3 linked regions of the Homo sapiens genome follow. The protein of the gene in region 1 interacts with the protein of each later gene in a pairwise test. Each region holds a gene or a part of one and is shown in the gene's direction. Other genes may lie near its edges. The genes, in order: TESMIN, NRF1 and FNDC3B.

What was found.
Region 2: the proteins of TESMIN (region 1) and NRF1 interact in binary tests that used the Homo sapiens proteins (3 or more experiments, as listed by UniProt).
Region 3: the proteins of TESMIN (region 1) and FNDC3B interact in binary tests that used the Homo sapiens proteins (3 or more experiments, as listed by UniProt).

The regions. Positions count from the first base shown.
Region 1 is NC_000011.10:68,737,860-68,741,612, reverse strand, and holds part of TESMIN (tesmin), read left to right. Parts: intron 1-2,824; coding exon 2,825-2,913; coding exon of another isoform or gene 2,914-2,917; exon of another isoform or gene 2,918-3,727; coding exon of another isoform or gene 3,728-3,753.
Region 2 is NC_000007.14:129,656,706-129,660,458, forward strand, and holds part of NRF1 (nuclear respiratory factor 1), read left to right. Parts: intron 1-637; exon of another isoform or gene 638-640; 5' UTR 641-646; coding exon 647-869; intron 870-3,753. UniProt on the Homo sapiens protein: Transcription factor that activates the expression of the EIF2S1 (EIF2-alpha) gene. Links the transcriptional modulation of key metabolic genes to cellular growth and development.
Region 3 is NC_000003.12:172,042,578-172,046,330, forward strand, and holds part of FNDC3B (fibronectin type III domain-containing protein 3B), read left to right. Parts: intron 1-3,753. UniProt on the Homo sapiens protein: May be a positive regulator of adipogenesis.

The DNA.
Region 1 (3,753 bases):
CACTGATCTGTGAGGTAAGTGAACCTCAGAAAACAAAACACACAACTCCGCCCTCCTGCAGCTTACATTTTACTGCAGGAGATAGACAATTAGCAAATCTAATAGGAAGCCAATTACATCATCTGTTAGGAGAGCAGAGGAAGCGGATTGGGGGGATGGGGATTTGATGGGGAAAAAGCCTAGTTGCAGGTTTAAAAAAGGTGATCATGGCTCCGTTGTGAAGGTGACATTTGAGCAAAGCCTTTAAAGAGATGAGGGAATGAGCTCTGTGAAGCAAGCTGTGGAACATCCCAGGCGGGCCTTGGATAGGGTCATGCCTGCTGTGGTGGCAGCGAGGAGGCCACTGGGCCTGGGATAGTGTGAGCTAGGGGAGCAGGGCAGGGAGGAAGTCAAGGCACTGGGAGGATTATGGCTTCCACTCTAAAGAGGGGCTGGTGGGGAGGAGGGGTCAAGGAGAACGGTGAGCCTGTTATGGCAATAATCTCGGGGAGAGATGATCGCTCAGATCAGGTGGTGGCAGTGGAGGTGGCAAGAAATAGCTTCTAGGGATACTTTGAAGGTTGAGTCAACAGGATTTGCTGATGGATTGGATGTGGGATGTGAGAGAAAGAGAGGAGTCAAGGATGCGCCCAAGGTTTTCAGCCTGGATGATTGGAGAGATGGAGTTTCCATCAACAAAGATGAGATGGTACAAGTTTTTCAAAGGCGTCCAGGAGTTCCGTTTGGATATATTAAATTTGGGATGCCTCAGAAGATGTTGCGTAGGAGTTTAGAGTGAGGAAGGGCTGGGCAGGAGGGATGAGATTGGGAGTCCTAGTGTATAGATGGCGTTGAAAGCCATATGAATAGATGAGATCTCAAAGGAAGTGAGTGTAAATTGAATTAGATATTTGTTGAATGAGTGAGTAAATACTTCTCAAGTGATACATTGGCCAAGATAAAAGAGAGTGTTATCAGTGCAGGAGGTGAGTGTAAGTCGGGATCTGGCGAGCACGCAGATGCAGTCTGTGTTGGAACCTCATAGAATCCTCCTACCGTCTGGCCCCCTCCACGCTGCTGGCCTTCCTTTCTCTGCTGTTTCAGCCACCAGTCCAGAAGGCACACATTGTACTTGCTCTTTCACCTCTAAGATCTTCCATGAGAAACACCCATTTGGCCACAACTTGCTGTCTCCCCACCTTCCCCCACCTTTCCTTGACTGTTTATTATCGTCCCCATTTTGGCCCCTTATCCAGCATGGACCTCAAGGACAATTCTTTTAGCAATGCATTTGCTGCTTCTCGAGAATCGTTTGCTTCCTTGCCAGACCCCAGTTCTGTATATTCTTTGGAGTGTTACCACCCAAAGTGTGGTCCATGGACCAGAACTGTTGGGATCACCTGGGAGCTTGTTAAGAAGTGCAGAACCTCAGGTTCCACCCCAAACCTGGGATTCAGACCCCCTGAATCAGATTTGCATTTTCATAAAGGCCCCAGGTGACTTGTGCACACAGCAGAGTCTGAGAAGCCCTGCCTCCGAGTTGACTTCCTTCACTCCAAGAGGACCAAACATTGCTGAAGAAACTCGTGGATTCCAGCATAAAGTTGCCCTGGATTTACAACCTATGGAGTACATAAGAGATGTCTCTGCTTTACTTTGGGGCTAAATAAGCAAAGGGGGAAAAAAAGTAATTTTACCTGGTTTATGCGAATAATTGCCTCAATCCTGAGAACTATGACATCCTTTCTCCAAAAGAATGCAAAACTCTTCAGACTGACATTTGAAGACAGGGGCCTAACAATTAGGTGTCCAGGTGAGGGCAAAAGGGACACCTGTCTCAGGGCCTTGTGAGCACTCCCTTCTGTGCACGAGCAAGAGGAGAGCAGGAAGGGGTTTCCCGGGAAGAAGCCTGGGGACTTAAGACTGATTGTAAATGAGGCAGTGGGACCCAGGAGGCTTTCTCAGTGTCTTCCAGCCGTAATGGATGGTGATGACACACAGTTTAAACTGGGCACAGAATGGAGGAAGTGCAGAGGATGAATACAAGACGCATTTTTTTTCTAAGACTATACTTCTTAAAGCTTTAAAAATAAATTTATTTAAAGATACATTTCCATTTTTGGACAGAGGAAGGGACAAGGATATGAGGTTTAATTGTGATATATGCAAATAATCTGAAAACCTAATTGTATTTAGTACTGTTAATTTCTTCAAGCTACTGAGTAGAAGAGAAGTAGGCCAGTGATGGCTTTGCTGCCTGTTCCTTTCCCTGTGAACAGCCTCCACAGGCCATGCTAATGAGTAACATAAAGAAAGATGAGACCTGGGAAAGCAAAGAACATGGACAATGCAGAGATGATGACATTGCTTTTGAATTTGTTAAAACTGGTTACAAAATATTTTTTTGAATACATGAAAAATCATGGTTGCCAACAAGACTTCAAATGTCAAGATCTGTATAAGAACATTTCTAGTTTATGGAAATTTGTCATTAAATTTATTTCATAATTGATAGTCTATAAAAATGAAAAGGAGTTCCATGACAATACCCCTGGCCAGCTGAGTGACAGCTATGGACGGCCTCCAGCCCGTGGAGGCCAGCCCTGCATCTTTGCACACTTCCAGACATCTTTGCACACTTCCAGACAGGCTGTGACACACCTCAGCACTAGACCTTCCGAATGTCAGTGGATTCCTTGTGGTAATAAGGCCAGACATGGTTATAAAGGGATGGTGATGTAAACCTTTAGGGAAAAAAAGAATCATTTTTATCTAGGGGGCTGGCTGACTGGAACTTTAAAAATCCTTGCTAATTCAAAATATCCTTGCCTTTGACTTTGAACAGCTTGAGGGAGCCTTACCATCGGTAGTCAACGGGTCTGCTTTCCCCTCGGGATCAACTCTTCCAGGACCACCAAAAATAACTTTGGCTGGGTAAGGATTAGAAGCAATACATTGTCACTCTAATGTAATAATTTAAGAGACTCTTGGATACGTTCACGATTTTCTTCTATACTATAAAATGAGCTTCACTGCACACCTTCATGACTTCTGAGAAATGTTTTTACCATCAGCAATGCCACTAACGGTGTTGCTGTCTGTGTCTGGTTTCACTGGGGCTGCAAAGGCTGCTGGAAAGTCTGGCCCATAACCTGCATCTGTCCCTGTCCTCCTGTCCGCTGTCCTATGTTGGTGTTTCTGAGGCTTGTTGCCATTTATAGCTCTTTGTCTTCATTCCATGTTGATTCAAACTGTACTGGCCTCTCTTTTTTGCTGTCGTCCGTGGAAATAATGGTGTGGCAGCCATGCAGCATGAACGGGGGGCTGCAGAGTGCCCTCCAGCTGCCTCCGCCCGCTGCCTTCCATGCTGAGTTGGCTCGAGCTCTATGGCAGGTGCTAATGCATGATCTGTCTTCACATCTCCAGGTGGACATAGGCTGCACTTATCTGGGACCTCATCTTGCTATTTCTTGCCTGTCTTGTGTTTATAATCTTGCTATTTCTTGCCTGTCTTGTGTTTATAATTGTTGCTAATTAAACTAATCAGCTGGTTGAAATTATCAGGTTAACATTTATGTATTAACAGTGGTTTGGGCAACCCTCTCCATTCGTTGAGCCCTGTAGTTGATTATGGAGATCAGCATATTCCTGCCTCCAAGAGGTGTTTGTTTGTTTGTTTGTTTTTTCTTGTTTTTTGTTTGTTTGTTTGTTTTGTTTTTTTGAGACGGACTCTTGCTCTGTCACCCAGGCTGGAATACAATGGCATGATCTCTG
Region 2 (3,753 bases), on another chromosome or scaffold:
CTGGGATTACAGGCGCCCACCACCACGCCTGGCTAATTTTTTTGTATTTTTAATAGAGACAGGGTTTTGCCATGTTGGCCAGGCTGGTCTCGAACTCCTGACCTCAGATGATCCACCTGCCTGGGCCTCCCAAAGTGCTGGGACTACAGGCACTTGCCGCCATGCCCTCAAGAAGCAGTTTTATAAGCAGAAAGACCAATTTGAATTTTTGGGAAAAAAGTTATTTGACTCTCACTCGTCTTTGACATACAAAGAAAATGTTAAGTATTTCACTTATTTACTAAGTGTTCTTATGTTCACAAGGCCAAATGCTAGTCACTGAGCTATCTTAAGTATGTTTTTATTGTTATATTTGAATGTCTTTTTATTATTAAGGGTATCTGTTGTTTTGTGATCTGAGGTATAAAATTAGTACAGCGAATTTCCATCAAAATGGTTTCACGTAAGAACACCACTCTGTCATTTTTATGTCACATTTGCATGGTGCTTCCCATTTCCTGTGACTTGGTGTGGCACGGTAAGTAGTGAAATTGGAATTTTGTCAAGGTTCCTCTGCTCTTGAATAAAATATCTCTTAGTTTAAACATTGTGTTATATTACACACTGAATCCTGTTCTTTTTCTTTTTTGTCTGACAGTAGAACTTCATGGAGGAACACGGAGTGACCCAAACCGAACATATGGCTACCATAGAAGCACATGCAGTGGCCCAGCAAGTGCAGCAGGTCCATGTGGCTACTTACACCGAGCATAGTATGCTGAGTGCTGATGAAGACTCGCCTTCTTCTCCCGAGGACACCTCTTACGATGACTCAGATATACTCAACTCCACAGCAGCTGATGAGGTGACAGCTCATCTGGCAGCTGCAGGTAGTGTTGTTTGGATTAGAAGCTCTTCTTTAATTTTTTTTTTTTTTTTTTTGGAGACAGCGTCTCACTCTGTTGCTCAGGCTGGGGTGCAGCAGCACAATCATGATTCACTGCAGCCTTGATCTTCCGGGTTCAAGTGATTCTCCCATCTCAGCCTCTGGAGTAGCTGGGACTGCTGATGTGTACCACCACATCTGGCTAATTTTTGTATATTTTGTAGAGACAGAAATGTCACTGTGTTACCCAGGTTGGCCTCAAAGTCCTGGGCTCAAGCGATCCTTCTGCCTCGGCCTCCTAAATTATTGGCATTACGGGTGTGAGTTACTATGCCTGGCCTTTATCACAACTTTTTTAAGCCTTGCAGTTATAACTTGAGCCTGTATTATACTGAGACTTGAGGTCTGTAATCACTTACTATCAGTGTTATGGCTTTGGTTTTATTTTTTCATCTATTCTGCCTATGTTTTGGCTTTAAACTGAAGCATTTATTCCAATTACGTTAAACAGAATCACTGACATGTATTTAGATTTAAATTTACCTTCTTTTCTATATGCTTTCTCTTTGCCCTACCTGTTCTGTTTACTTTTCTCTTTCTTGGCGTTTTCTTTTGTAGTGATTGAAAATTTTGTATTTTTTCATTTTTTTCTTGTTAGTTTGAAAGTTATAAGCTTTTACTATTATCAATACCTGTAGAAATTGTAACATACATCCTTTATTTATCAATGCCTTATGTTGACTAGGCTCAGTGGCTCACACCTGTAATCCCAGCACTTTGGGAGGCCAAGGTGGGAGGATCACTTGAGCCCAGGAGTTTGAGACCAGCCTGGGCAATGTAGTGCAATCCCATCTCTACCAAAAAAAAATTAGCTGGGTGTGGTGACGTGCTCCCTAGTCCCAGCTACTTGGGAGGCTGTGGTGGGATGACTGATCACTTGAGCCCAGGTGTTTGAGGGTGCAGTGAGCTATGATTACACCACTGCACTACAGCGTGAGTGACAGAGTGAGAGCCTGTGTCCAGTTGAAAAAAAAAAAAAAAAGGAAAAGCAAAACGTTGTATGTACTTGGAACTTTTAACCTCTACAGGGATAATACAAATTTCTTAGAACACTTGCATTTCATGCGCCCATCCTATATGCTATTGTTGTCCTTTGTATTCATTTTTGGTATACAGTTGGCTCTCTTTATCTGTGGGCTCCACATCTGCACATTCAACCAATTTTGATCAAAAGTATTAGGAAAAAATTAAAAGTAACAATATAACAATTAAAAATAATACAAATAAAAGGCCAATACAACAACTATTTGTATAGCATTTACACTGTATTAGGTATTATAATATTAGTATTAGTAACCTAGAAATGATACAGAAGGACGTGAATAGGTCATGTGAAACTACTACACCATTTTATATCAGGGACTTGAGCATCTACACATCAAGATGCTAGAAACAATCTCAAGAGGATTTGAAGGGACAACTGTATTTTAAACACCACAGGACTTTTTTTTTTTTTTTTTTTTTTTGAGATGGAGTCTCACTCTGTCGCCCAGGCTGGAGTGCAGTGGCACAATCTTGGCTCACTGCAGCTTCTGCCTCCTGGGTTGGAGCAACTCTCCTGTCTCAGCCTCCCGAGTAGCTGGGATTACAGGTGTGCGTCACCATGCCCAGCTAATTTTTGTGTTTTTAGTAGAGATGGGGTTTCACCCTGTTGGCCAGGCCGGTCTTGAATTCCTGACCTCGGGTGATCCACCCATCTCGGCCTCCCAGAGTGCTGGGATTATAGGCGTGAGCCACCGCATCCAGCGAACAATATTTTTATTTAAAAAATAATGTTAATTTTTTTTCCTGCATCTCCAACTGGTCTCCTGAGATGGTTTTACTTCTGCCTAAAGACACCATTTAATATTTGCTTTAACATGGATCTGCTAGTAACAAGTTCTATTTTTGCTTGTCTGTGAATGTTTTTACTTAAACTTCAACCTTGAAGGATGTTTTCACTGAGTATGGAATTCTAGCTTGGTGGTTATTCTTTCCTCATGTTGAAGGTACTGTTCCACTGTCTTCTGGATTCCATTGCTGCTATTGAGAATTCAGCTATTTCATTCTAACCGCTACTCTTTCAAAGATTATCTCCCACATGGCCTGCCCCCCTCTCCCGGAAATTTTAGCCATGAGATTTTGCTTCTGCTGCATTCCATCTCTTTTCATTCCATGGCTCCAGTTACTTATGTTAGTCTTCCTCACTTGTATGTCTCTTAACCATCTGTTCTGTATGTATCATCTTTCTGTGTAGTTTCTTCTGTCTTTCAGCTTGTGAAAGACAGAAGATTTTCTTCTTTAGCTGTTGTATTAGTCCATTTTCATGCTGCTGATAAGAGATACCCAAGACTGGGAAGAAAGAGGTTTTAATGGACTTACAGTTCCACCTGGCTAGGGAGGCCTCACAATCATGGTGGAAGGCAAGGAAGAGCAGGTCGCATCTTACATGGATGACAGCAGGCAAAAAGAGAGAGAGCTTGTGCAGGGAAACTCCTCCTTTTAAAACCATCAGATCTTGTGAGACTTATTCACTATCACAAGAACAGCATGGGAAAGATCTGCCCCCATGATTCAATTACCTCCCACCGGGTCCTTCCCACAACATGTGGGAATTATGAGAGTACAATTCAAGATGAGATTTGAGTGGGGACATAGAGCCAAACCATATTATTCCACCCCTGGCCCCTCCCAAATTTCATGTCCTCACATTTCAAAACCAATCATGCCTTTCTAACAGTCCCCCAAAGTCTTAACTCATTTCAGCATTAACTTAAAAGTCCACAGTCCAAATTCTCATCTGAGACAAGGCAAGTCCCTCTGCCTATGAGCCTGTAAAATCAAAAGCA
Region 3 (3,753 bases), on another chromosome or scaffold:
TTATACATTATCTCATTAAAATTCTAGTATTTTCGATTTAGGTTGTGTTATGCACACTTTACAAACAAGGGGATTGAGATTTACAGAGAGAGAGTAACTTGCATAAGATCACGTAGCTACCAATGGTGTCATCCAATGGAATTTTCTTCAGTGTTGGAAATGGTTCTGTCTGTGCTGTCCAGCATAGCAGCCACAAGCCACATGTAACTGAGTCTTTGAAATGTAGCTAGTGGACTGAGGAACAACAGTTTAAGTTTTTTTTTTTTTTTTTGAAATGGAGTCTCGCTCTGTCGCCCAGGCTGGAGTGAGTGCAGTGGCGCAATCTCGGCTCACTGCAACCTCCGCCTTGCTGGTTGAGATGGATTCTCGCTCTGTAGCCCAGGCTGGAGTGCAGTGGCGCGGTCTCGGCTAACTGCAACCTCCGCCTCCCGGATTCAAGCGATTCTCCTGCCTTAGCCTCCCGAGTAGCTGGGATTACAGGCGCTTGCCACCACGCCCGGCTAATTTTTTGTATTTTTTAGTAGAGACGGGTTTTCACCATGTTAGCCAGGCTGGTCACGAACTCCTGACTTCAGGTGATCCACCCGCCTCGGGCTCCCAGAGTGCTGGAATTACAGGCGTGAGCCACCACACCCGGACTAAGTTTTATTTACTTGTAATTATTTTAAACTTAAATTTCCACTTGTGGCTAGTGGTTACCATATTGGAGAGCAAAGTGTAGAACTTTTTGACTCCCAAATCTTTCACATGTAGCTTGGTCATATTGCTCTTTATTTTACTTTGAGACAGACTCTCGCTCTGTTACCCCGGCTGGAGTGCAGCGGCATGATCACTGGCTCACTCACTGTAGCCTCCACCTCCCAGGCTGAAGTGATCCTCTCCCCTTAGCCTCTCCAGTAGCTGGTACTACAGGTGTGCACGCCACCATGCCAGGCTATTTATTATTATTATTGTTTTTTTGTAGAGACAGGTCTCACTAGGTTGTCCAGGCTGCATACTGCTCTTTAGATCTCTTAGTTCATTTTTCTTTCTTCTACGATATCAGAAGTTACATTCAGCCCTTAAATGGAATTTAAAGACTGAGTTAGCTATAGCTCAACTTTGCTTTCATATGTAGAGTGGATAAAATACGCACATTATTTGTTAACTCTTTGGTTTTAAAAACAATGTTTACATGTCATAGTTAAAACTGGTGGAAAAATCTTTAAATTGTATCTTTTTTGGTTTAATATAGGAATTGTGCATAGGAATTGCTGAAAAAGTAGTCAGAACTTGTTGGTTATTTTAGTGTAATAAGAGTACAAATAGGAAGCAATATGAAAAGTCACTAATAGAAAGCTGAAAAAAACGATCCTCTCATACCCGCGTCCATCCGTTCATTGGACAGTTCTTTTCAGACTTTGTAAGTATCAGTAAACCATTACTCACTTTTCCTTATGTAGCTGCAGAAGTAACCTGAAGAATTAAAATTATTCTTTTACTCTCAGTGTATAGAAATCAAATATCAAACACATTGGATTCATCCATGAATTGGGAAGAATATGTGTAAGATTAAAACAGTAAGAAAGATCTGTCCGATGGCAGATGTTCAAATCATTTTCTGATTAGTGGATTTAATTTAAATTCATTGAATTTTAGAGTTTCATTTGCTAAAAGGAATTTCAACAACTTTCTGATTTTGTATGGAATAGTGAAAATTCCAACTCTTTTTTTTTTTTTTTTTTTGGTGTGCTACCCTCAGGAAAAGGCAAATTATAATGTAATCTCTTTTTATTAGGATTTTTAAGAGGCAACTGCCAGGTTCAGTATAAATATATCTGAATCTATTGTATCTTCCATAGTTATGGTACTGTCCTGGGATAATTGCAGTTCATAGTCTTAACTCTAGACATATCCTGGAGGACCTATGTCTGTAAATTATCTTTGAATTGTTCTATGTTATTTTAGTGTTATGTGAATTACATTGCTTCCAGCTCTTTGAAAATCGTTAATTCAACTGCAGGTAAGGCGTCAGTTACTGAGACTGTTCAGATAACTGAAACATCCTGTTCATACCCATTCCTGACCATTGGGACCACTGTACTATTTTCAAGGATAAGATACCACTGTACTATTTTCAGGATAAGAACCATGTTATAAATAGAATTATAGTGTCCTAGTGAGTGTGACAAATATAGGAAACATGATTTAACCCATGACATATGGTTTGATTTGTAGGACATCCCCAAGTGCTTAATACAAATGAGAAATGTACTATAATCTTAAGGCATAAAGATGTTTAAATGATGGACAAAAATTGAGGGCCACATCTGAGCATCAGTTTGAAATCAGAATATCTCCTCTGTCAAGGAGTGACTTTACTTTCTAGCTGGGTCCTTGATAAGCTTTTGAATCTCTCTGAGTCTGGGTTTCCTCATTTTAATATAAGGAGGAAAGATCTAACTCGTACCTTTTCAAATGGTGTCACAAGGGATTAATGAGTCAGTGTATTGAGAAGTGTTTGGCAAAGCCTTATACAAACTCCATAGTTCATTATATTCCAGAGTTTAAAACTGAGCTGGTGCTATGGTATTTCTCTGCACATTTTCAGAGACCTCCAAATTGTGCTTGGACAGTTTGAAAAATGATTTATTTTTCTCTTTGTGATCAGTAAACAAGGTCCAAGCTTTAGATGTTGTATTTTATTTTACCCCACTCCTAATGGAATAGGTGATTTGTGACCTCTGCAAAGTTGTACTATACATAAGTTGTCCCATATCTGTGTTTTTGGGAAGCTGGTCTGTAGCTGGGCTAGTGTTGCTGAAGTGGGCAGGCCAGGCTTGATTCAGGGCTGTTTTTGAGGTGGCGGGAAAAAGTGCAGTCTCTTAGAGGAACGTTCAGTACTGAATGATAAAGGAATAAGGTTTTAGGCCTTGTATGTTACCTTAGCCTATTACTTGAGCTTTCAGCAATTACAGCTGAGAATGGAAAAGAATCGTATTTTCAGTGTAGGGGAGTCTTTGCAACCTACCTGCCTTTCCACTTTAGAAATCACAATTGCCTTTTCTTCTTGTTAACGAGGTTAATCCATTAAGTGGGATATTTATATGGTAAGACATTATTTTCAAGTAAATTAATTCTCACTCTTAAGGCTGTTGAGAATTCACTTAGGTGGTTGAGGAGAAGCTTTGTACTTTAGTTTACTGAGTGTCTCTCTCTCTCTCTCTCTCTCTCTCTCTATATATATATATACACTTTGCCTTAAAATATATATTATGGTTATGGCATTATGTGTTGTAAAGAGGGAGAGAATGCTTGAATTATTGTGGCTAGATAGGGGCAGGTAGACAAGCACAGGCCCAACTGGAAGGATGACTTGATGGTAGTTGAGCACTTTGCAAGGTACCTCCAGTGAGATGCCAGACCCTAGTAACAAGCTCACCTGGAGGGGAGTTTGTTTGTGGTGCAGGTTTAATGTCAAGGACCAGTTCTTGGAAACAGAAGGTATGTGGGGTGCCAGTTGAAGATCAGGGGACAGAAATGTTTTTAAAACCACCAAGTATAAATCACATAAGATCGATAGACAGTCGTGATCAGCCATCTACATACAGATGAGGATGTTTGTCAGTTTGAAAATGGATCGATTGTTGAATTTTTCTTTGTTTCTCCCCAGTTAAGATATGCAAGTTTAGCATTCTGTAAGTGTTGGATCAGAATTTCTGATGCCCTTGGCACTCACTACTCAGTGTCAGTTTAGACATTGGCTCCTAATTT